Linked DNA regions of Homo sapiens: region 1 is linked to region 2. Evidence: fine-mapped expression QTL. A gene starts in region 2. The other region holds a variant in brackets. All regions are shown on one strand. Distances are between the middles of the regions.

Region 1 (8,000 bases), 37 kb after region 2:
CTGGTTTTGACCCCCTTCTAGGTTTTAAGAGGCTCAAGAAGCTTAGTTTCCAGGCTGGGCACGGTGGCTCATGCCTGTAATCCCAGCACTTTGGGAGGCCGATGGGGGAAGATCACGTGAGGCCAGGAGTTCAAGATGGCCAAACCTCGTCTTTACTAAACATACAAAAAAATTAGCTGGGTGTGGTGGTGGGCACCTGTAATCCCAAATCCCAGCTACTTGGGAGGCTGAGACAGGAGAATTGCTTGAACCTGGGAGGCGGGAATTGCAGTGAGCTGAGATTGCATCACGGCACTCCAGCCTGGGCCACAGAGTGAGACACTGTCTCAAAAAAAAAAAGAAAAAGAAAAAAAAAAAAAGAAGCTTAATTTCTCATGCCCTGGGACAAATAATTGAGGAACTGGCTGCTCCTATGGCATTCTGGGAGTTGTAGTCCCTTTGCCAATGTTGGGTGCAGACAGCGTACCCTTGAGACAAGGGGTCTTTGGAAACTATGTCCAGGACCTGGGAACATGAAAACTTCAGTCTGTCCAATCTAACCCTGCCAGGACTTAGATGGTTGGCCAAAAAATCCTCAGTTCCTGTCAACCCCTGAGGAGGCAGTCACTTGAGCCCAGGAGTTCAAGACCAGCCTGGGCTGCCTCAGGGATTTACAGGTCCCTGTCCGGTTGGGATTGCTGCAGTGGGCCGCTGCCCACTCTGTGCAGTAGTGGTGACAGATTGACCTCTCCCCGAGTCCTTGTCCCTACTGGGGATTGCCGATTCTTTTCCCAACACTCGTGGAGACAGTGGCCCTGTCCCTGTTGCCCACAGTTCCTGGCACAGAGTGAGGAGAAGCCACATGTGGTTGCTCACTTCCATGAGTGGTTGGCAGGCGTTGGACTCTGCCTGTGTCGTGCCCGGCGACTGCCTGTAGCAACCATCTTCACCACCCATGCCACGCTGCTGGGGCGCTACCTGTGTGCCGGTGCCGTGGACTTCTACAACAACCTGGAGAACGTGAGCTGGGACCGTGGCAGATGGGGGACTGCGAGTATGCCAGGAAAACCCAAAGCTCTGGGGGGCCCAAGGGGATGGCACCCCCTCTTCTCCCAGGATCCAGGAGTCCAAGTCCCCAGACCCCTCCTACCTCAGACCCAGGAATCCAGCCCCCAGCACCAATTTCTCTTGGGACCCCAGTGTCTGGACCTCCAGAGTCTTCTCCCCAATCCTTCTAACCGGACTGCTGTCCCCTCCCACCCAGTTCAACGTGGACAAGGAAGCAGGGGAGAGGCAGATCTACCACCGATACTGCATGGAAAGGGCGGCAGCCCACTGCGCTCACGTCTTCACTACTGTGTCCCAGATCACCGCCATCGAGGCACAGCACTTGCTCAAGAGGAAACCAGGTAGGGGCTGGGCTGAAGTCCCCAGACGTGAATGAGGTAGGCAGCTGTCTATGCCAAAGCCAGTTGCTCCTCAGCCCAAGAAGCCCACTGTAAGTTGAAATAGCATAAACCGAAAACGTATTTCGGCTGGGCATGGTGGCTCACACCTGTAATCTCAGCACTTTGAGAGGCCAAGGCAGGAGAACCACTTGAGCCCGGGAATTTGAGACCAGCCTGGGCAACATGGCGAATCCCTGTCTAAAATATTCGCCAGACATGGTGTGTGCCTGTATCCCTAGCTACTCAGGAGGCTGAGGTGGGAGGATTGCTCGAGCCTAGGAGGTCAAGGGTGCAGTGAGCTGTGATCGTGCCATTGCATGATTTGGGTGGCCTGGAGAGACCCTGTCACAGCCTGGGTGACACAGTGAGACCCTGTCTCAAAAAATAAAAAAATGCATTTAATACACCTAACCTACTGAACATCATAGCTTAGGCTAGTATACCTTAAATGTGCCCAGAACACTTTATGTTAGCCTACGACTGGGCAAAATCATCCAATACAAATCTGTTTTATTTTATTTTTATTTATTTATTTATTTTTGAGACGGAGTCTCGCTCTGTCGCCCAGGCTGGAGTGCAGTGGCGCTATCTTGGCTCACTGTAAGCTCCGCCTCCCAGGTTCATGCCATTCTCCTGCCTCAGCCTCCCAAGTAGCTGGGACTATACGCGCCTGCCACCACGCCTGGCTAATTTTAATACAAACCTATTTTATAATAAAGTGTTGAATAGGCTGGGCGCAGTGGCTCACACCTGTAATCCCAACACTTTGGGAGGCCAAGGCGGGCAGATCACGAGGTCAGGAGATCGAGACCAGCCTGGCCAACATGGCGAAACTCCATCTCTACTAAAAATACAAAAATTAGCCGGGCGTGGTGGTGGGTGCCTGTAATCCCAGCTACTCGGGAGGCTGAGGCAGGAGAATCACTTGAACCCAGGAGGCGGAGGTTGCAGTGGGCCGAGATCACACCACTGCACTCCAGCCTGGACAACAGAGCGAGACTCCATCTCAAAAAATTAAAAAAAAAAAGTGTTGAATATCTCATCAAAATCCAAAATTGGACTCATGTGGATGTATGTAACTTTCACACCATCATAAGGTTGAAAAATCATAACTTGGCTGGGCACGGTGGCTTACACCTGTAATCCCAGCACTTTGGAAGGCTGAGGTGGGCAGATCACCTGAGGTCATGTGCTCAAGACCAGCCTGGCCAACATTGTGAGACCCCCTCTCTGCCAAAAATACAAAAATTAGGTGGGCATGGTGGCAGGCGCCTGTAATCCCAGCCACCCAGCTACTCGGGAGGCTGAGGCAGGAGAATCTCTTGAACCCAGGAGGCAGAGGTTGTCGTGAGCCAAGATTGTGCCATTGCACTCCAGCCTGGGCAACAAGAGCGAAACTCTGTCTCGAAAAGAAAAATCATAACTTGGACCATCCTAAGTCCTAAGCTGGGGACCATCAGTTACCATTTTTTTACCTAAAGAATAGAGAACTACAGCTCCCAGAAGGCTGTGGGGGTGGTGACCTGTATTTGAGGCTCTCTGACTATATACTCTGGAGGCTAATGGGAGGTATAATTTCTTTCATATTAATTTCAGATATGATAAAATTCTGTAATTGGCTAATGTAGATTGGTCTTATGAAAGGGAATGGAAGATCAGTGGACTTTGCTTTTGAGAAAGGTTAGGTCAGAACTGG[G/CTGGG]CATTCTTCCCAGCCCTTAGTATCCGTTCTCAGTGAGTATAAGGTGAGAACTACAACTCCCAGAAGGCCTTTGACTGGTTAGCTCTATATGTTCCAGAACTTTGCCCTAGGCGCTGATGGGGGTTGTAGTTTTTCGTTGATATACTTTAATTTCTATGAGGAGAAGAAATGATTGGGTCCCTGTAAGAAGCTTGGAAGTAGAGGATATATCCTAGGAGAAGCAGGACTTTGGGGATGTTTAATCATTTCCATCTCAGGGTGGGCTAAGAGGAAACAAAAGAAGTACAACTTTCCCAGAATCACCAGTGTGGATCAGATCCCTGTTAGCCATTTGCAGTAGCTGAGGAGACTTATACTTGTGCTTGTGAACCTAAGCAAGTAATATTAGGCAAGAAGGCATCTTGGAGTCAGGGTAGGTGTGTCACCAAGGGAACTGGCCAGGCATGGTGGCTCACACCTGTAATCCCAGCACTTTAGGAGGCCAGGGCAGGAAGACTGCTTGAAGCCAGGAGTTTGAGATCAGCTTGGGTAACATGACAAGACCCCATCACTACAAAAGTAAAATAAATAAATTAGCCGGGTGTGGTAGTGCACGCCTGTAGTGCCAGCTACTCGGGAGGCTGAGGAGGGAGGATTGCTTGAGCCCAGGAGGTCAGGGATGCAATGAGCTGTGATTGTGCCACTGCTCTCCAGCCTGAGCGACAGAGAGAAACCCTGTCTCCAAAAACAAACAAACAAACAAAAAAGGTGGGAGGGGGGACCTCATAGGAACGCTCTTGAAACAAAAAAATTGCAAAAGGCAAAGGGTGTTTTCTTCATTTATTCATTCAACCACAACATTGATCTGAATGAACAAATAAAACATGGGACCCTCACCCCCAATCCCAGATATTGTGACCCCCAATGGGCTGAATGTGAAGAAGTTTTCTGCCATGCATGAGTTCCAGAACCTCCATGCTCAGAGCAAGGCTCGAATCCAGGAGTTTGTGCGGGGCCATTTTTATGGGTACGTGGGGCATATACCTAGGTCTTAAGAGAGGAGGGCGTTGGGAGCCTAACCATCTAGGTCTGGGGGAGGGGGCAGCTGGGGGCCCAGACTCCTGGGTCTGAGGGAGGGGGCACCTGGGTATTCGGCCTCCTTAATTCTTGAGCGCTGGAACAATGGGCTCAGGATTAAAGGAAATCTCCATCTAAAGAGAAGAACTACAACTCCCAGGAGGCCCCGTGATGCCTCTGTATTACCTAAGACATCCTCTGCCCCCCCACCCATAGCTTCTGGGATTTGTAGTTTTGAGGCCAGGGCTAGCGGGTGAGGGCTTTGGGCTTTACCGTGCCTTGTGGGTTCTTTAGGCATCTGGACTTCAACTTGGACAAGACCTTATACTTCTTTATCGCCGGCCGCTATGAGTTCTCCAACAAGGGTGCTGACGTCTTCCTGGAGGCATTGGCTCGGCTCAACTATCTGCTCAGAGTGAGGCCTGGGCTATGAGGGGACAGGGAGGGCAAGCAAAGCAGTTTATAACTAGGGAGAACAGCCAGGCACAGTGGCTCACACCTGTAATCCCAACACTTTTGGAGGCCAAGGCGGGAGGATCACTTGAGCCCAGGAGATGGAGACCAGCCTGGGCAACATGGTGAAACCCCATCTCTACAAAAAATACAAAAATTAGCCAGGCATGGTGGCTCACACGTGTAGTCCCAGCTACTCGGGAGGGTGAACGGGGAGGATCACGCGAGCCCGGGAGGTGGAGGTTGCAGTGAGCCAAGATCATATCACTGCACTCCAGCCTGGGCGACAGAAAAAGACGCTGTCTCAAAAACAAAACAAAACAAAACAAAACAAAAAATTACAGAACAGAAACCCAAGAAGCCAGGAAGATGGGGGTAGGAAAGCCCCTGAGTATGGTGGGGGGCCGTGAGGGGAGTATAGAGACCCAGAAAGAAGGTCAGAGTCCAGGTGGGGACTGTCCTATAATTCTCCTTGACAGGAATGGGTATGGCAGGATCCCAGTGGTCTTGACAGAAAGGCTGGCTGGTTCCAGGCTTCCCCCACATGATCCTGGCCTCCCCCTCCTTTCTTTCTGCGCAGGTGAACGGCAGCGAGCAGACAGTGGTTGCCTTCTTCATCATGCCAGCGCGGACCAACAATTTCAACGTGGAAACCCTCAAAGGCCAAGCTGTGCGCAAACAGCTTTGGTTAGCAGCCCTCGCTCCGGCCCCTGGCGCAGCCCACTCCCAGATGCATGCTTTGGGTCCTGTGTTTCTCCTAGAGTCTCAGTTTTTTGTTTTGTTTGTTTGTTTGTTTGTTTGTTTTTGAGACAGTCTCACTCTGTCGCCCAGGCTGGAGTGTAGTGGTGCGATCTTGGCTCACTGCAACCTCCACCTCCTGGGTTCAAGCAAGTCATCTGCCTCAGCCTCTCGAGTAGCTGGGACTACAGGTGCACACCACCATGCCTGGCTAATTTTTGTATTTTCAGTAGAGATGGGGTTTCACCACATTGGCCAGACTAGTCTCAAACTCCTGATCTCGTGATCTGCCCGCCTCAGCCTCCCAAAGTGCTGGAATTACAGGCATGAGCCACCGCACCCGGCCCTCTTTTTTTTTTTTATTTTGAGATGGAGTTTTGCTCTGTCGCCCAAGCTGGAGTGCAATGGCATGATCTCGGCTCACTGCAACCTCTGCCTCCTGGGTTCAAGCGATTTTCCTGCCTCAGCCTCTGAGTAGCTGGGACTACAGGGGTGTGCCACCACACCTGGCTAACTTTTTATTTTTATTAGAGACAGGTTTTCACTATATTGGCCAGGCTGGTCTTGAACTCCTGACCTCAGGTGTTCCGCCTGCCTCAGCCTCCCAAAGTGCTGGGATTCCAGGCGTGAGCCACCACACCTAGCCTTTTTTTGTATTTTTAGTAGAGATGGGGTTTCACCATGTTGGCCAGGCTGATCTTGAACACCTGACCTCAGGTGATCCAGCCGCCTTGGCATCCCAAAGTGCTGGGATTACAGGGGTGAGCCACTGCGCCTGGCTTAGTTTCTTTTTCTTTTCTCTGATTTTTTTTTTTTTTTGAAACAGAGTCTCACTGTTGCCCAGGCTGGAGTGCAGTGGCGTAATCTCAGCTCACTGTAACCTCCGCCTCCCAGCAAAGCTCAGTTTCTTCATCTGTAAAACCGTTCATTCATTAGCAGAGATACTCACTGAGCATCTACTATGTGCTAGCTAATTTTTATATTTTTAGCACCGATGGGATTTCACCACGTTGACCAGGCTGGTCTTGAACTCCTGACCTCAAGTGACCTGCCCTCCTCATGTATTCCAGGTCCTGGGAATACAGCTGTGAACCAGAAAGATAAGATCCCTTTCCTCATGGAGCTTGTATTCTAGAAAATCCTGTAGACGGAATTTACTTTTGGGCAAAAATAAAGCAGAACTGGAATATGAGACGGGGTTGTCAGGACAGGCCACACTGAGAAAGTGTTATTGGGCAGAGACGAGGAAAGGTGACGAGGGAGCAAGCCCTGTGGGTATCTGAGGAACAGCAAACTCGAAGGCCCCGAGGCATGATTGAGACGCGGTGGGGAGTCCCATGGGGCTGGAGTGACATGTCTCATAGAGAAGGGGTAGAAAGTGAGGCAAGATGGAGGGCACCTGTAGTGCCAGCTACAGGAGGCAGGAGGATCATTTTGGCCCTGGAGGTTGAGGCTGTAGTGAGGCATGATTGCGCCACTGCACTCCAGCCTAGGCAACAGAGTGAGACTCTGTCTCAAAAAAATAAAAAAGAAGTCGGGCGTGGTGGCTCACACCTGTAATCCCGGCACTTTGGGAGGCCGAGGCGGGTGGATCACCTGAGGTCGGGAGTTTGAGACCAGCTTGACCAACATGGTGAAACCCCGTCTTTCCTAAAAATAAAAAAAATCAGCAGGGCGTGGTGACACACATCTGTAGTCCTAGCTACTCGAGAGGCTAAGCAGGAGAATCGCTCGAACCCGGGAGGCAGAGATTGCAGTGAGCCAAGATCGCGCCAATGCACTCCAGCATGGGTGACAGTGAGACTCGGTCTCAAAAAAAAAAAAAAAAAAAAGAAAGAAAGAGGCTGGGCGCGGTGGCTCACACCTGTAATCCCAGCACTTTGGGAGGCTGAGGAGGGCAGATCACTTGAGGTCAGGAGTTCGAGATCAGCCTGGTCAACGTGGTGAAATCCCATCGGTACTAAAAATATAAAAATTAGCCAGATGTGGTGGCGCACGCTTGTAATTGCAGCTACTCAGGAGGCTGAGGCAGGAGAATTTCTTGAACCTAGAAAGTGGCCGAGATTGCGCCATCCTGGGCGACAGAGCAAGACTCTGTCTCAAAAAAAAAAAAAAAAAAAAAAAAAAAAAAAAAAAAAAAAAGAAAAGAAAAAAGAAAAAGAGACAAAGAAAGAAAAATAAATGAGGCCAGAGCTATGGGAGGATTTTAAGTGGAGGAGTGACCGTGGGGCTGTTGTGTGACACTGCTAGCTTTACTTGTGTGCCTAAGTGGTCCTTTCTCAGAATCTTACTTTCTTTTCGTATAAAATGGGGCTTAGCATTGCCATCTGCAGGACAAGTACAAGTCCTAATAATAGCTGACATTTCTGGAAGGCTTGCCATGTGTACTTTTTGGCATGACATCATTGGGTCCTCATCGCAAACCTCTGAGGTTGATTCTATTTTCATCCTCCTCTGAAAAATGAGTCACTGCAGTCAGAGAGGGAAGGCCACCTGTCCCTGACCACACAGCTGATGTCAGGCACGTGGGTCCTAAGCCTTCCAGGGCCTGCCCCCTGGGTCCCCATCCTCCAGCCTGGAGGCCCCAGGGCACGGCTTCCCTGCTCACACCTCAGTTTCCTTGCTATCCT
Region 2 (15,643 bases):
GTCCCAGCTACTCGGGAGGCTGAGGCAGGAGAGTGGTGTAAACCCGGGAGGTGGACCTGCAGTTAGCCGAGATCGCGCCACTGCAGTCCAGCCTGGGCGACAAGTGAGACACCCCCTCAAAAAAAAATTGATTGGAACATCCTCCAGGGTGCAAGACCCTCGGTTCCTCAGAGTTCTACAGGAAGGATAGCAGAGTGCAGTTGCCCAGAGGTGAAGTCCCATCTCTGCCATTTGTTGGCTGTGTGACCAGGCACAAATCATTAATTTCTCTGAGCCTGTATTTTACCATCTGTTGCTATTGAGTAATAGTAGTTGAATATTTTCTACTTTTATTTTTATTTTATTTTTATTTTTATTTTTTTTGAGACGGAGTCTGGCCCTGTCACCTAGGCTGGAGTGCAGTGGCGCGCTCTCGGCTCACTACACCTCTGCTTCATGGGTCCAAGCGATTCTCCTGCCTCAGCCTCCTGAGTAGCTGGGAGTACAGGTGCGCACCACCATACCCAGCTAATTTTTGTGTTTTTTTTTTAGTAGAGACAGGGATTCACCATGTTGGCCAGGCTGGTCTCAAAGTCTTGACCTCAGGTGATGCACCCACCTCGGCCTCCCAAAGCGCTGGGATTGCAGGCGTGAACCACTGCACCCGGCCGAACATTTTTATCTTTATTTTATGATTATTATTATTATTTTTTTAAGATGGAGCTTTGTTTTTGTTGCCCAAGCTGAAGTGCAATGGCGCGATCTTGGCTCACTGCAACCTCTGCCTCCTGGGATCAAGTGATTCTCCTGCCTTAGCCTCCCAAGTAGCTGGGATTATAAGCATGCAGCACCACGCTGGAGGATATTTTGTATTTTTAGTAGAGGTGCGGTTTCTCTATGTTGGTCAGGCTGGTCTGGAACTCCTCACCTCAGCTGATCCACCCACTGCAGCCTCCGACAATGCTGGCATTACAAGTGTGAGCCACCATGCCCGGCCTTATTTTTATTTTTATTTTTTTTGTGAGACAGAGTCTCACTCTGTTGTCCAGGCGGAAGTGCAGTGGCACCATCTTGGCTCACTGCAATCTCGGCCTCCCGGGTTCAAGCGATTCTCCTGCCTCAGCCTCCTGAGTAGCTGAGACCACAGGCGTGCAGCACCAGGCCTGGCTAATTTTGGTATTATCAGTAGAGATGTTGTTTCACAGTGTTGGCCAGGCTGCTCTCGAACTCCTGACCTCAAGTCATCCACCCGCCTCAGCCTCCCAAAGTGCTGGGATTACAGGTGTGAGCCATAGTGCCTGACCTGTAGTTGTTGAATATTTATTATTAATCTACAAGTTGGGTGTGATGCAAGTCCTATATATGGAGTCCCCCAAACTTCTAGAGCAAGGGCTTCCCCATAATCCTGGCAGGCAGGCCTCCCCTGGGGTTTCCAACTTCTGACCCCACTGAAGTGTTTATCCTCTTCTCTAATCCCAGCCTCCTTTTCCCTGTCTCCATGTGCTCTGAGAGATGCTCTGAGAGATGCTCCCACTCCCCCAGGCTCCCTCCGCATCCCCCTCATTTTCCTCCTCCCCAGTGTGTCAATGGAGTCCTAACCCCATCCTCGACATTGTCGCCTTTTCCTCCTCCAGAGTGGGACCTTCTTTTCCCCCGAGTGGTCCTGTCTAGGGGTGCCGCTGCCGGGCCCCCTCTGGTCTTCCTGCTGGAGACTGGAGCCTTTCGGGAGTCAGCAGGCGCCCGGGCCAACCGCAGCCAGCGAGGGGTGAGCGATACTTCACCGGCGAGTCATCAGGGTGAGCTGGCCGTGTGCGATGCAGTCAGTGTCTGGGTGACAGACCCCTGGACTGCTGTGGACTTGGGTGTGCTCGAGGTGGAGGTGTTGGGCGAGGTGCCTGCAGCTGTCGGCAGTTCCCTCCGCCAGCACTTCTTTGTTGCCCACTTCGAGGCCGATAAATCTGAGGAAGGTGGCCCGGGGGTAGGTGGAGGGGGCTGCCGCCGGGGTGTGGACCGGGGGGCACTGGGTGTCTGAGTGCAAGGCCAAGCAGTCCTATGTGCGGGCATTGACCGCTGATGCCCAGGGCCGTGTGGACTGGCGATGGATTCAAACTGGCACAGCCTGTGTCTGCACACTCCTCAGCCGGACTGGCCGGGCCTGAGACTTATACCCAGGAACTGGTCAGGCAGAAAAAGAACAGAGCTGGATGCTGAGAGACCTCAGGGTTGGCCCAGCTGCTCTACGGACGGACCCCAGTTGGGGAACTCATCAAATCATCACAAAATCACAACTCTCTGAATTTGAGCTCAATCTCTGCAGGATGGGTGCCACCACATGTGGTTTTGAAGGTTGAATAGGAGCTCTCCCAGGGGAACTTGAGGGTAATCATGATGATGATGATGATGATGATAATAATAATAGCCACTATTTACTGAGTGTTTACTCTTTCGTAGCCCTAATACATAACTCCTCGGATCAACTCTCATGGATTTGATCATTGGTGACCTTTGGTGTTAAGTTGCTGACTGCTCAGTCACAGAGGACACCACCTTGCTCATCCTGGGGAGTGGGAGGGCACATTTCACGATGTGCATGGGGGAGGAGGGAAACTGGAACATGCAAGCAGATGGCCAGGGGACCTTGAGGACATGGTCTACAGAAGGCCTTTAAGTATCTGGGAGCTGGGGTTCAAATGAGAAATCTTACTTGGTGAGAGCAGGCAGGGGTTGGCTTAGAATATTCTGTTTTGAGATAAAGAGCTACCGATCACACGGGGAGTATAAGCAAGGTTCAATGAGAAGTGATCAGGATGCTGGAGAGTTCAGCCCTGGGCGGGGAGCTCAAGTCAGGTTTCTAGCCCTCTTCCCTGTGCCAACCTATACCCTACATTGGGAAAGAAACAGACCTTAAAATTGTCCAGCTTGATGGCATCGCGGGGAAGGGACTAAGTCCAGATAATGTCCTCCGAGGCTTCGGCCCCATGGGCAGGACACACCTCCTGCGGGCCTATTCAATAATCAGTTAAATCACCTGAAGCACACGCATTTCCGGGGACAGCTCCGGGCATCCTGGCTTGAGGGTAGGGTGGGCGGAGGTCCCTAAGGGAGAGGTGGGGCTCGGGCTGAATCCCTCGTTGGCGGCACCAGGGTCAAGTGGCTTCCCTGGCAGCACAGTCACGGGGAGGCCCTCTCTCATTGGGCAGAAACTAAGTCCGAAGCCGCGCCCCTCCTGGGAGGTTGGACTGTGGTGCAGGAAAGCCTCAAGTAGAGGAGGGTTGAGGCTTCAGTCCAGCACCTTTCTCGGGTCACGGCCTCCTCCTGGCTCCCAGGACCCCACCATAGGCAGAGGCAGGCCTTCCTACACCCTACTCCCTGTGCCTCCAGCCTCGACTAGTCCCTAGCACTCGACGACTGAGTCTCTGAGGTCACTTCACCGTGGTCTCCGCCTCACCCTTGGCGCTGGACCAGTGAGAGGAGAGGGCTGGGGCGCTCCGCTGAGCCACTCCTGCGCCCCCCTGGCCTTGTCTACCTCTTGCCCCCCGAGGGGTTAGTGTCGAGCTCACCCCAGCATCCTATCACCTCCTGGTGGCCTTGCCGCCCCCACAACCCCGAGGTATAAAGCCAGGTACACGAGGCAGGGGACGCACCAAGGATGGAGATGTTCCAGGTAAGACTGCAGGGCCCCTGGGCACCTTCCACCTCCTTCCAGGCAATCACTGGCATGAGAAGGGGTCAGACCAGTGTGAGCTGTGGAAGGAGGCCTCTTTCTGGAGGAGCGTGACCCCCAGTAAGCTTCAGGTGGGGCATTTCCTGAAGGTGCGGATCTGAAATGTTGGGGTATCTCAGGTCCTCTGGGCTGTGGGGTGGGCTCTGAAAGGCAGGTGTCCGGGTGGTGGGTCCTGAATAGGAGATGCCGGGAAGGGTCTCTGGGTCTTTGTGGGTGGTGTACCACGCGGGATGGGAAGGCCAGGACTCGGGGCTGCGGTCTCAGACCCGGGTGAAGCAGTGTCCTTGTCCCAGGGGCTGCTGCTGTTGCTGCTGCTGAGCATGGGCGGGACATGGGCATCCAAGGAGCCGCTTCGGCCACGGTGCCGCCCCATCAATGCCACCCTGGCTGTGGAGAAGGAGGGCTGCCCCGTGTGCATCACCGTCAACACCACCATCTGTGCCGGCTACTGCCCCACCATGGTGAGCTGCCCGGGGCCGGGGCAGGTGCTGCCACCTCAGGGCCAGACCCACAGAGGCAGCGGGGGAGGAAGGGTGGTCTGCCTCTCTGGTCAGGGGCTGCGGAATGGGGTGTGGGAGGGCAGGAACAGAGGGCTTCCTGGACCCCTGAGTCTGAGACCTGTGGGGGCAGCTGGGGAGCTCAGCTGAGGCGCTGGCCCCAGGCACATGCTCATTCCCCCACTCACACGGCTTCCAGACCCGCGTGCTGCAGGGGGTCCTGCCGGCCCTGCCTCAGGTGGTGTGCAACTACCGCGATGTGCGCTTCGAGTCCATCCGGCTCCCTGGCTGCCCGCGCGGCGTGAACCCCGTGGTCTCCTACGCCGTGGCTCTCAGCTGTCAATGTGCACTCTGCCGCCGCAGCACCACTGACTGCGGGGGTCCCAAGGACCACCCCTTGACCTGTGATGACCCCCGCTTCCAGGACTCCTCTTCCTCAAAGGCCCCTCCCCCCAGCCTTCCAAGCCCATCCCGACTCCCGGGGCCCTCGGACACCCCGATCCTCCCACAATAAAGGCTTCTCAATCCGCACTCTGGAGGTGTCTTTCTGTGGGCTCAGGGCAACCACACACACACAGGATGGGTCCAGCTTCCAAACCATTTTATACAGAGTCACAGTATGAGAACTCTGGTAGAAAACAGTGTGGGGTCGGGGGATGACATCGCAACTTTACTCTACATTGGGAAAGAAACAGACCTTAAAATTTTCCAGCTTGATGGCCAGGTGCGATGGCTGATGCCTGTAATCCCAGCACTTTGAGAGGCCAAGACAGGCGAATCACCTGAGGTTAGGAGTTCAAGACCAGCCTGGTTAACATGGTGAAACCCCGTCTCTACTAAAATTACATAAAGAAATTAGCTGGGCGTGTAGGCGGGTGCCTGTAATCCCAGCTACTCTGGAGGGTGAGGCAGGAGAATCGCTTGAACCCGGGAGGCGGAGGTTGCAGTGAGCGGAGACTGTGCCATTGCACTCCAGCCTGGGCAAAAAGAGGGAAAGTCCGTCTCAAAAAAAAAAAAAAATTGTCCAGTTTGAGTGGGACATGAGGTTCTGACTAACTCGCCGTCCCCCTGGCTAGGATCAGGGGGTTATTCGTCATTGAGAGCCCTTGAGTAGGGTCAGCAAAATCCAACAGAAGGGCCCCAGAAGCATGATTCAGGGAGGAACAGTAAGTGGGATTGTGGGCCTGGCTGCAGAAGGCAGCCTCAGGTTTCCTTGTCTGAAGAATGGGCTCGTGGGATGAGATAATGAGGGTTGAGGAGGCAGAGGCCTAGACCAAAAGCTATTTTTTTTTTTTTTTTTGAGATGGAGTCTTGCTCTGTCCCCTAGGCTGGAGTGCAGTGGCATGATCTCAGCTCACTGCCACCTTCACCTCCTGAGTTCAAGTGATTCTCCTGCCTTAGTTGGGATTACAGGTGTGCGCCACCATGCCTGGCTACTTTTTATATTTTTCGATAGAGACAGGGTTTTGCCATGTTGGCCAGGCTGGTTTCAAACTCCTAACCTCAAGTTATCTGCCCGCCTCTGCCTCTCAAAGTGCTGGGATTACAGGAGTGAGTCATCGTGCCCGGTGACCAAAAGCTCTATATGGTGAAGAAATGACAAGGGAAGCCAGGGACAGACCACAGGAGTTCACAGTAGCCCTTCACCTATGACCCCTATTACCCATCTCCCTACATGTGTTGCCAACACACAGACATACAGACACACACACACTCACTCTCTCTCTCTCTCTCTGGTCCACAGGACTTCACAATAGCCCTTCACCTATTACCCATCTCCCCACATGTGTTGCCAACACACAGACAGACACACACACACACACACACTCTGTCTCTCTCTCTCTCTCTCTCTTTCTCTCTGTCTGGGACAGACCACAGGACTTCACAATAGCCCTTTACCTATTACCCATCTCCCCACATGTGTTGCCAACACACAGACACAGACACACACACACACTCTCTCTCTCTCACTTTCTCTCCCCCTCTCTCTCTCTCAGGTCCAGCTTTGAGCAAAGGACATAGGCACCCCCTCCACCAATCTGTACAGACCAGGCCCCTCGGCAGGGAGGGGTGTGGCTGCCTCCGTTTCTACATCTCCTTGTTACCATCTCTGATTTTGCTCTTTTTTGCCGCCTTTCTCTCTGTCTCTAACTTCCGGTGGCTCTAGCCTCTGGGTGAGTACTAATAGCTCCGTTTCCAGCGTGGTCTGTGTCTTCCTCCCTGTCTCTCTCCTCTCTTGTATTTCTTTCTCACTCATCAAAGCCCATGTTTTTCGCTATGGTCCGGTGCACTTCTCTGTGGGTGCCTCCCTGTTTCCACACCCCGCCTACCCAGGTGGAACTTTTCAAGCCAATCAAAGGCAGGCAGGACAGCCAATGCTAGTGCTGATTACTTCAGCACGTGCATGCAGGGAGGGTCGGGGAGCCCCGGGGATGTCTGGAAATCGTTACCCTGAGGTGGGCAGGCCTGGTAGAGGGAGGAAGCAGCCAGGAGCATCTGGGCCCTGGAAGAAAGGGGGGTGTTTCTCATGGATGTCCTGAGTTGCTAGGTGCAGCGCAGGGGTCTCTGTCTCTCTGTCTGGATCTCTGACACCTCCAGGTCCCTGTCCCTCTTTTTGGGTTTCTCTCTCCCCCACCCCCTGGGTCTCTGAAATACTGAACTTCTCCTTCCCTTTCCACCCTCCTATCTTTGAGTCTCCATTCCCCCTCCTTGTGTTTCTTTGTACCCCTCTTGGGGTCCCTGTCTCTGGGTCTCTTTCTCATTCCATCCATCCAGGTGCCTGCAGGCCCTTGATTGACTAGGTTCTGGGTGGGCGGGTTCTGTCACCTGGGGCAACAACCACAATAAGCCAGCTCCTGCTTGGCTACGGAGTGGGGGTGGAACCATGGCCAGTGGCACCCTGGCTCCGGGCTGTCGTATCTCTGCAACCGAGGTACCTGGATCCAGGCCCAACTGCCATCTCACCAGCAGCTACTTTTCCCACCGCATTATCCCACCCATACCCTTCACCCCGCCCACGGTGCAGGTGAGCGGACCCTACGCTGCAGCCCTGCCGGGCCTGGAGACCCAGAAAGATAGGGGCTAAATAAAGCGGATTGGGAGCTTGGACTCCTCTCTGAAGGAGGAGGGTCCTGGAGTTCTGGGTCTGAGAGAGGAGGCACCAGGGAAGCTGAATGCCAGGGACTGCAGAGGAAAGGGCTGGGGGCCGACTGGAAGAGGTCAGAGTTTGGGGTGGGGGGTGATAGGGACTCCTGAGTCTTTCTAGCTGATGTGCGGCGCCTTCTCTCCAGTCCACGGTCGCGGACCCTCTACCCCAAGTTGCAAAGCAGGATTCTCACAACTGGGCTTTCGACGAGGTCCTCAGCAGATGGGAGACAACCTCTGGCTCGGCCTACGTGCCCAAGACCCATGGCGGGCCCTGCGCCCAGCCCAGAGCCCCAGAGCCTGCAGACCCCACGCGGACTGTGGGGATCAAGGATTTAGGAGAAAAGGTAAAGTTTGGGGAGTGCCGGAGTCCGCAGGGGACAGGGCGGGGGACTGCATTTGAGTCCCCTGCTCCTTCACGTGAGTCTCTGGGTCGCCTTTCCGCAGCTCAGACACCGCGGCTGGCGCCTCCCACTGACCACAAAGTACCAGAGCAGCGAGACGAGGGCGCAGTACACTGGCTCTCCCAGCGGGGACCCGCGCGCCCCGGAATACTTCGGGCCCCAGCCCCCACAACTCGCAGACCACCACCGCGGGGGTCCTTCCCAGGTGTCTGGGTGGAAGCCGGCGCCGGCGAGACGGGGCGGAGCTCCGGGAGCCTGGGGCGGGGCCAGAAGGAATCACGGCTTTGGGGCGTGGCTAAAGGGTCTGGGGCGGGATCGCGAGGTTAGAGGAGCCGGGGGAGGGGCTGGGCATTAGGCCAGGCCAGAAGGACCAGGGACTACAAACTCACCTTCAGGGCTCCTAAGCTGCTGCGGAGCTAGACGGCGGGCTGTGGGTGGGGAGGAGACTAGAATATTCTGAGACGGGGTCAGGTGGGAGTTGGGAGAGGTAACTTGGAGTTGCTGCCCAAGATGCAGCTCAGCTCCAGTGGCCACACCAAGACGGTTTAAGACAGAGCGGAACCAGGGAGGTTGTTTTTGGTGGCTGGGGGCTTGGGTTTGAGTTCCTTGAACAGCAGAAGGTGCTTGGATTTAGGGAGGTGAGGCTGGGAAGGGTTCGGGTATGAGAAAGGAAGCTGAAGTTCCCTGGCGTGGGTGGCAGGAAGGGCTCTAACCCTGGGGCGGGGTGTGAGGGCCGTGGCCGTCATGGCTGTCGAGGCCGAAGGAGAGGGATTCTGAACTCGGGACCCAGGGCTTGGGATGGGGTATGAAATCTATGTCTTGGGTATGCCTCCTCCCCCAATCTTGCTCAGGCTCTAATTGCCTGGACGAAGAACCCCGAGCTGTCTGGCCGGCCTTTCACAGTATCCGACCGGGGCGTCCTGGACCGCCGCCAGCTCTATCTGACCACCTCGGCGCGGGACTTTCGGTTCTATCCCAAGTAAGCCGGGCTCTCGCTCGGCACCGCCTCCTGCACAGCCCCCGCCGTGGCCGGTGCACGCCGAGCCCCTGGGCTGGCTCCCATTCCCTGAGCCGGTGGTCTCAGCCTCGACTTCTGTAGCAGCAAGAACCAAAGTTCAGGCCTCAGCCCCTCCCTTTTTTTTTTAAGCACCCAGGAGTCCTTAGTGTCACCTCTCAGGAACCGCGGTAGGGACAGGAAGCCTGCACAGCGGCTCGAGGGGATTCCGGATCTGAGGGCAGGGCCTCCTTCGGTACTTGAGCCCCCAGATACTCCTTCCCAAGGAAGCGAAAGTCCCCTTTTACTTCCCTAGGATGCGAAAGCTCAGTTTCCAGGACGTTAAGTACCTCGAGGACCCAGGAACGCAGGCAACGCGTGCCGGGTCGCGTCCTTCCTAAGGGGTGCTCGCCTGGAAATGCAGGAGTTTGAATGTGCAGACTCCTTAGATCCCGAGGTCTGAAACTCGTCCCCAAGGATCCAGCTGTATCCTCACCATCCCGCCCTGCTCCCACAGGACGGAGCTGTCCGGATACCCCCGCAAGGACTCCCTGACCTACTGGAGCTTCGAAGAGACGCCCCAGGTCTGGAGCCACGGCCCGCAGCGGCCGCCCTGTCCGCGCTCCTCCCGGCCGCCCCGACCACCGCGGGTCCGCGTGCCGCGCGTCAGCCCGGTGACCTCGGCCATGCCGCACCGGGGAGCCCTGTCTCTGGCTCAGGAGTCCTACAGCCCCCTGCTGCACCCGCTCCGGCGGCTCGACCGCTTCTGCCCGCTGGAGGCGCCCTGGGGCGGCCCGCACTGGAAGCCCCTGCGGGGCATCTACAGCGTGCCGAAAGCCTACAGTACCGAGAACTCCAGCTATGGCAGCTTGAAGCCGGCGCTGGTGTGAGCCGTCAGGGCCAGCCCCACCCCAGACCCGCCCCCAGGGCCGCGCTGCCGAGCGGAGCTCGGGACCTCCGCTCACTAGGAAGGGTTCCGGACCCAGCCTGAGTCGCACTCATTACGTCTATTGGCAACGTGGGGGCGGGACTAGCCCAGACACCCACTCAGCTGCGGCATCACGGAGAGGGGACTAAGTCCAGATAATGTCCTTGCAGGCTGTGGCCCCGGGGGCAAGACACGCACCCTGCGGGCGTATTAAATAATGAGTTAAATCACCTGAACCACACCCACTTCCGGGGACGCTCCGGGCATCCTGGCTTGAGGGTAGGGTGGGCGGAGGTCCCTAAGGGAGAGGTGGGGCTCGGGCTTAATCCCTCCTTGGGGGCATCTGGGTCAAGTGGCTTCCCTGGCAGCACAGTCACGGGGAGACCCTCTCTCACTGGGCAGAAGCTAAGTCCGAAGCAGCGCCCCTCCTGTTAGGTTGGACTGTGGTGCAGGAAAGCCTCAAGTGGAGGGTTGAGGCTTCAGTCCAGCACCTTTCTCGGGTCATGGCCTCCTCCTGGCTCCCAAGACCCCACAATTGGCAGAGGCAGGCCTTCCTACACCCTACTCCCTGTGCCTCCAGGCTCGACTAGTCCCTAGCACTCGACAACTGGGTCTCTGAGGTCACTTCACCGTGGTCTCTGCCTCACCTCTGGCGCTAGACCACTGAGGGGAGAGGGCTGGGGCGCTCTGCTGAGCCACTCCTGCGCCTCCCTGGCCATGTGCACCTCTCGCCCCCGGGGGGATTAGTGTCCAGGTTACCCCAGCATCCTATCACCTCCTGGTGGCCTTGCCGCCCCCACAACCCCGAGGTATATAGCCAGATACACGAGGCAGGGGATGCACCAAGGATGGAGATGCTCCAGGTAAGACTACAGGGCCCCTGGGCACCTTCCACCTCCTTCCAGGCCATCACTGGCATGAGAAGGGGCAGACCCGTGTGAGCTGTGGAAGGAGGCCTCTTTCTGGAGGGGCATGACCCCCAGTAAGCTTCAGGTGGGGCAGTTCCTGAGGGTGGGGATCTGAAATGTTGGGGCATCTCAGGTCCTCTGGGCTGTGGGGTGGGCTCTGAAAGGCAGGTGTCCGGGTGGTGGGTCCTGAATAGGAGATGCCGGGAAGGGTCTCTGGGTCTTTGTGGGTGGTGTACCACGCGGGATGGGAAGGCCAGGACTCGGGGCTGCGGTCTCAGACCTGGGTGAAGCAGTGTCCTTGTCCCAGGGGCTGCTGCTGTTGCTGCTGCTGAGCATGGGCGGGGCATGGGCATCCAGGGAGCCGCTTCGGCCATGGTGCCACCCCATCAATGCCATCCTGGCTGTCGAGAAGGAGGGCTGCCCAGTGTGCATCACCGTCAACACCACCATCTGTGCCGGCTACTGCCCCACCATGGTGAGCTGCCTGGGGCCAGGGGCAGATGCTGCCACCTCAGGGCCAGACCCACAGAGGCAGCGGGGGAGGAAGGGTGGTCTGCCTCTCTGGCCTGCGGTTGGGGAATGGGGTGTGGGAAGGCAGGAACAGAGGGCTTCCTGGGCTCCTGAGTCCAGGACCTGTGGGGTCAGCTTGGGAGCTCAGCTGAGGCGCTGGCCTCAGGCACATGCTCATTCCCCCACTCACACGGCCTCCAGATGCGCGTGCTGCAGGCGGTCCTGCCGCCCCTGCCTCAGGTGGTGTGCACCTACCGTGATGTGCGCTTCGAGTCCATCCGGCTCCCTGGCTGCCCGCGTGGTGTGGACCCCGTGGTCTCCTTCCCTGTGGCTCTCAGCTGTCGCTGTGGACCCTGCCGCCGCAGCACCTCTGACTGTGGGGGTCCCAAAGACCACCCCTTGACCTGTGACCACCCCCAACTCTCAGGCCTCCTCTTCCTCTAAAGACCCTCCCCGCAGCCTTCCAAGTCCATCCCGACTCCTGGAGCCCTGACACCCCGATCCTCCCACAATAAAGGCTTCTCAATCCGCACTCTGGAGGTGTCTTTCTGTGGGCTCAGGGCAACCACACATACACAGGGTGGGTGCAGCTTCCCAACCATTTTATACAGAGTCACAGTGTCAGAACTCTGGTGGAAAACAGGGTGGGGTCGGGGGATGACATCCAACTCAGGAGGTGTCCATGGTCTCGCCTTCTGTGGGGAGAAGGAAGGCCACATGGTCAGTGTCGCCCAGGTGGCAGGGCCTGAGCCTTCTACGCCGAGCTCCCTCTTCCTCCCTCTGAGGTTGGCTCTGGCAGTGCAGGTGCGGGGTGGGGATTCTTACTGAGTTCGTTGAAGAGGAAGGCGTCCTGGTACTCCTTCATGTACTGCGTGGAGCGGGACTCGTCCAGGAAGAGTGAGTAGACCCGCTTGATGTCATCCACCTGCACTTCTGTACCCTGGAGGGGGAGGGCGAGTCCTCAGTTGGGCCCCTCTCCGTGAGGCTCAAGGCACAGACCCCAGCGTATGCCACCTCCATGCTCTAGGCAGCAGAGTGTGGCATGTGAGGGGAGGGCATTCTGGGCCAGATTGCCTGGGTTCAAATCCTGCCTGGCCATCTCCTTGTTGTGGGCCCAGCCTCTTCATTCCTCAGTTTCTTTATCTGTAAGGTGGACCTAACAGCATCTACTTAAGTCAAGAGAGATTTACTGATACCTACTATAGGCCAGGCTGGATGATACAGAAGCCAACCTGAGGGATGAAAATTCCCTGCGTCTGAAAACGTACATTCTAGGATGAAATCGGAACCCTGGAAGCCCCTGAAGTACTGTGTCACTCACTGCCGCCATCTGGCCCTGCTGGCTAATTCGGCCGGCTGACCTTGCGTTTCCGGCACACCAAGCTGGCAGCTGTGATGAGCTGGATGGCGTAGCGCAGTGACGTCTCCAGCCCGATGCGGGTCAGCACCGTGTAGGCGTCCTCACTCATCTCCACATCTTCTTCCTCGCACCTGCAAGCAGTGGGGGACAGGGGTGGCTCAGCCGGGGCCCAGCCTCTGACTGCAGCAGAAGTGGCCACAGCAACCCTCTGGCCCTTCCCCACTGGGAATATGTGGCGCCTGCATCTTAGAACCATAGAATGCTGAGGCTAGAAGAGCCACGGAGACAGGGGCTGGGCTGGACCTAAAACCGAGGCCTCCTGACCACCCCCAGGGCGCTGGCCCCAACACCAGTCACGGGTACCTCGCCTCCCTTTCCCACCGTGGCTCCTGCTCCCGGATCGGAGGCCACCGTCTGGGTGCCCGCTCAGCCCTCTCTCCTGTAGGCCCAGCCACCATGCCACTCCGCTGGACCTCAGTGTCAGCATTTGTCAAACAGGGTAGACCCCAGCCCTGCGTCTCAGGCGCACGGCCTGGTCCTGCCCGCACCGGATGCGGAGGATCTGCTTCGTGTCTTTCTCGCTGTAGGGGGTGGTGGAGACGATAAGCAGCCGGTCCAGCAGGTCTATGGGGATGCCGTGAGGGCTCTGGTAGCTGGTGCCCCGGATTCTGAGGAAGAGGCAGAAAGAGGGGGCTGTCAGGGGCATGTTCCCTCTTCATTCCCTTTGCTGGGAACACTCTCACCTCCCATCGCCACCCACTCACTGGGCCCAACACCACTTAACCTTTAGCTCGCGTCTCCTGTCACATGATGACATCACCCCTGATGACGCAGCCTTCCACAGCTGCGTCAGTCCCCCAAGGGCACCTTTCCGCGGAGCTGGGCTGCTTTAAGCTAGATCTCTGCCTCCAGGATTACTGGATCAAGGTCCCACTCCCGTGCTCGACACAAAGCTTCACAAAGGAGGGGACTGCACCTGTCTTGTTCCCTGCTGCAGCGGGGCCAGCCCAGGGCTGGTGCCAGGGGATACAGTCAGTTCCCCTTATTCACAGTAGTGAGGTTCTAGAAAGTCATCGTGAACACTCCAATTAGCTGATCCTGAGCCACTGCTCCTACTGGAATACAGGGTTAGGCTCTCTCGAGCCTCGGCTTACAGTATTTTCATCAATCCATATATATATAATCTGGGTCTATGCGTATTTTCATTTGTGTGTTTCTGGTCTTTTTGGTTTGTTTTTTGAGACGGAGTCTCGCTCTGTTGCGAGGCTGGAGTGCAGTGGCGCGATCTCGGCTCACTGCAACCTCCGCCTCCCGGGTTCAACCGATCCTCCTGCCTCAGCCTCCCAAGTAGCTGGGTCTACAGGCGCACGCCATCACGCCCAGCTAGTTTTTTCTATTTTTAATACAGACAGGGTTTCACCATGTTGGCCGGGACGGTCTCATTCTCTTGACCTCGTGATCCACCCACCTCGGCCTCCCAAAGTGCTGGGATTACAGGTGTGAGCTACCGCGCCTGGCCTCATGTATGTGTGTTTCTATTTCCATGTGTTTGTTATGTAACATCACTGTTTATTCTCTAACATGGAGCTCGTGTCAACAGCATTCTAACTTGGGCTCAGCGAAGCGTCTGTAACATGGCATTTTCTCCGTCAGGCTTCACAGCCTCCTTGCACTTAGGATACTAGACAGCACTTCAACACTGTGCACAGGGGACACTTTAAATGGCAATATCACCAACAAATGGCCCCAAAAAGTTTAAAAAAAAAAGGCACAAAAAAAGTGACAACACTTTGGGAGGCTGAGGCGGGTGGATTGCTTGAGCCCAGGAGTTTGAGACCAGCCTGGGCAACATGGCAAAACACCATCTCTACAAAAAAAAAAAAAAAATTAGGCCGGACGCGGTGACTCACCCCTGTAATCTCAACACTTTGGGAGGCTGAGGTGGGCAGATCACGAGGTCAGGAGTTCGAGACCAGCCTGGCCAATATGGTGAAACCCTGTCTCTACTAAAAATACCAAAATTAGCTGGGCATGGTGGCGGGTGCCCATAATCCCAGCTACTCAGGAGGCTGAGGCAGGAAAACTGCTTGAACCCAGAAGGCAGAGGTTGCAGTGAGCCGAGATCGTGCCACTGCACTCCAGCCTGGTGACAGAGCTAGACTCCGTCTCAAAACAAAAACAGAAATTAGCTAGGCATAGTGGTGCATGCCCGTGGTCCCAGCTGATGAGGAGGCTGAGGCCAGAGGACTGATTGAGTCCCAGGGGTGGTGTGTGTGTGTGTGTGTGTGTGTGTGTGTGTGTGTGTGTGGTGGGCACTGAGGCTGCAGTGTGCCATGATCGTGCCTCTGCACTCCAGCCTGGGCGACAGAGCAAGACCCTGTCTCAAAGAACAAAAGTGACAAACGTAGCACTAAATAGAATACAACAAGGACACTTATTTACAGCATGAGCGCTAAGGGAGCAGGCAGTGTTGCCTCGTTCACACTCAGCTGGGAAAGTGGGTGTCAGGTGACTTGAATTTGTTGCCGAAAGCAGGGCAGATATTTATTTGGGGATTACAAATAAATCTTAGCAAGCGAGATTCTCAGATACAGAGTCTACGAACAATCAGGGCTGCCCGTAGCTGCTGCCTCCCACAGGAGGTGCCCCTGGGCAGTCCCCAGGCCCTGACCTGCAGTTTCTGTGAAAACACCATCAGCCCTGGGGGTCTCTTCCAGTGTCCAGCCATCCAGAGACCAAATTACGGCCCTGCTACCTTCTAGACTTGTGACCTGGGCAAGTCACTGGGCCTCACTGTCCTGCCCTATAAAATGGGGCTGAGGTGATATCTACCTTCTGAGCTTCTTCTGCGGATCCAAGGAGTTAAAAGAGCCAAACACAGAGCCAGGCCCAGCGGCCCAGCATCCTCTGTAGGGTGCCCGCTTCTTCCCTTTTGTGATGCCCATCCCAACCGCCCAGTTTCAGCTGGGCCCAAGGCTGCAGGGCTGGAGCTGACAGTACCCAGCCTTCTTTGCCACCAGGTACAGCACTGAGCCCAAGCAGTGCCGGGCAATGGAATGGGGGTGCAAGGTTGGGGTGCAGCCTGTGGATCACAGCCTATGGGGGCTGCCTGCCCTCCACATCCCCCTGCTTCCTGCGGGCCAAAATGTGGCGAGGTGGAGAAGACAGCCAGCGGGCATGGTGGCAGGTGCCCGT

The links.
Region 1: its variant is fine-mapped to the expression of SAXO3 in whole blood (TOPMed, PIP above 0.99).

The regions. Positions count from the first base shown.
Region 1 is chr19:48,978,849-48,986,848 of GRCh38, reverse strand. It overlaps GYS1 (glycogen synthase 1), which reads left to right. Exons shown (of 16, transcript NM_002103.5): 4 at 814-999; 5 at 1,244-1,388; 6 at 4,012-4,129; 7 at 4,474-4,594; 8 at 5,213-5,319. Among named protein-coding and RNA genes, the nearest start is that of GYS1, 10 kb to the left of the region's middle. RefSeq lists an enhancer at 7,648-7,887. The variant G/CTGGG (reference allele first, on the strand shown) is at 3,124.
Region 2 is chr19:49,011,957-49,027,599 of GRCh38, reverse strand. It overlaps SAXO3 (stabilizer of axonemal microtubules 3), which reads left to right and starts at 7,051. Exons shown (of 5, transcript NM_001396011.1): 1 at 7,051-7,225; 2 at 7,491-7,691; 3 at 7,792-7,953; 4 at 8,600-8,727; 5 at 9,260-9,632. The coding sequence starts at 7,085. The coding sequence ends at 9,632. LHB (luteinizing hormone subunit beta) reads left to right here and starts at 10,509. Exons shown (of 3, transcript NM_000894.3): 1 at 10,509-10,533; 2 at 10,886-11,053; 3 at 11,290-11,620. The coding sequence starts at 10,519. The coding sequence ends at 11,532. CGB3 (chorionic gonadotropin subunit beta 3) reads left to right here and starts at 3,267. Exons shown (of 3, transcript NM_000737.5): 1 at 3,267-3,643; 2 at 3,997-4,164; 3 at 4,400-4,731. The coding sequence starts at 3,629. The coding sequence ends at 4,714. LOC124904738 (a long non-coding RNA gene) reads right to left here and starts at 7,507. Exons shown (of 2, transcript XR_007067288.1): 1 at 6,926-7,507; 2 at 4,785-6,703. It also overlaps RUVBL2 and the pseudogene NTF6A. RefSeq lists enhancers at 6,325-6,474, 8,761-9,684, 9,494-9,788 and a silencer at 9,328-9,517.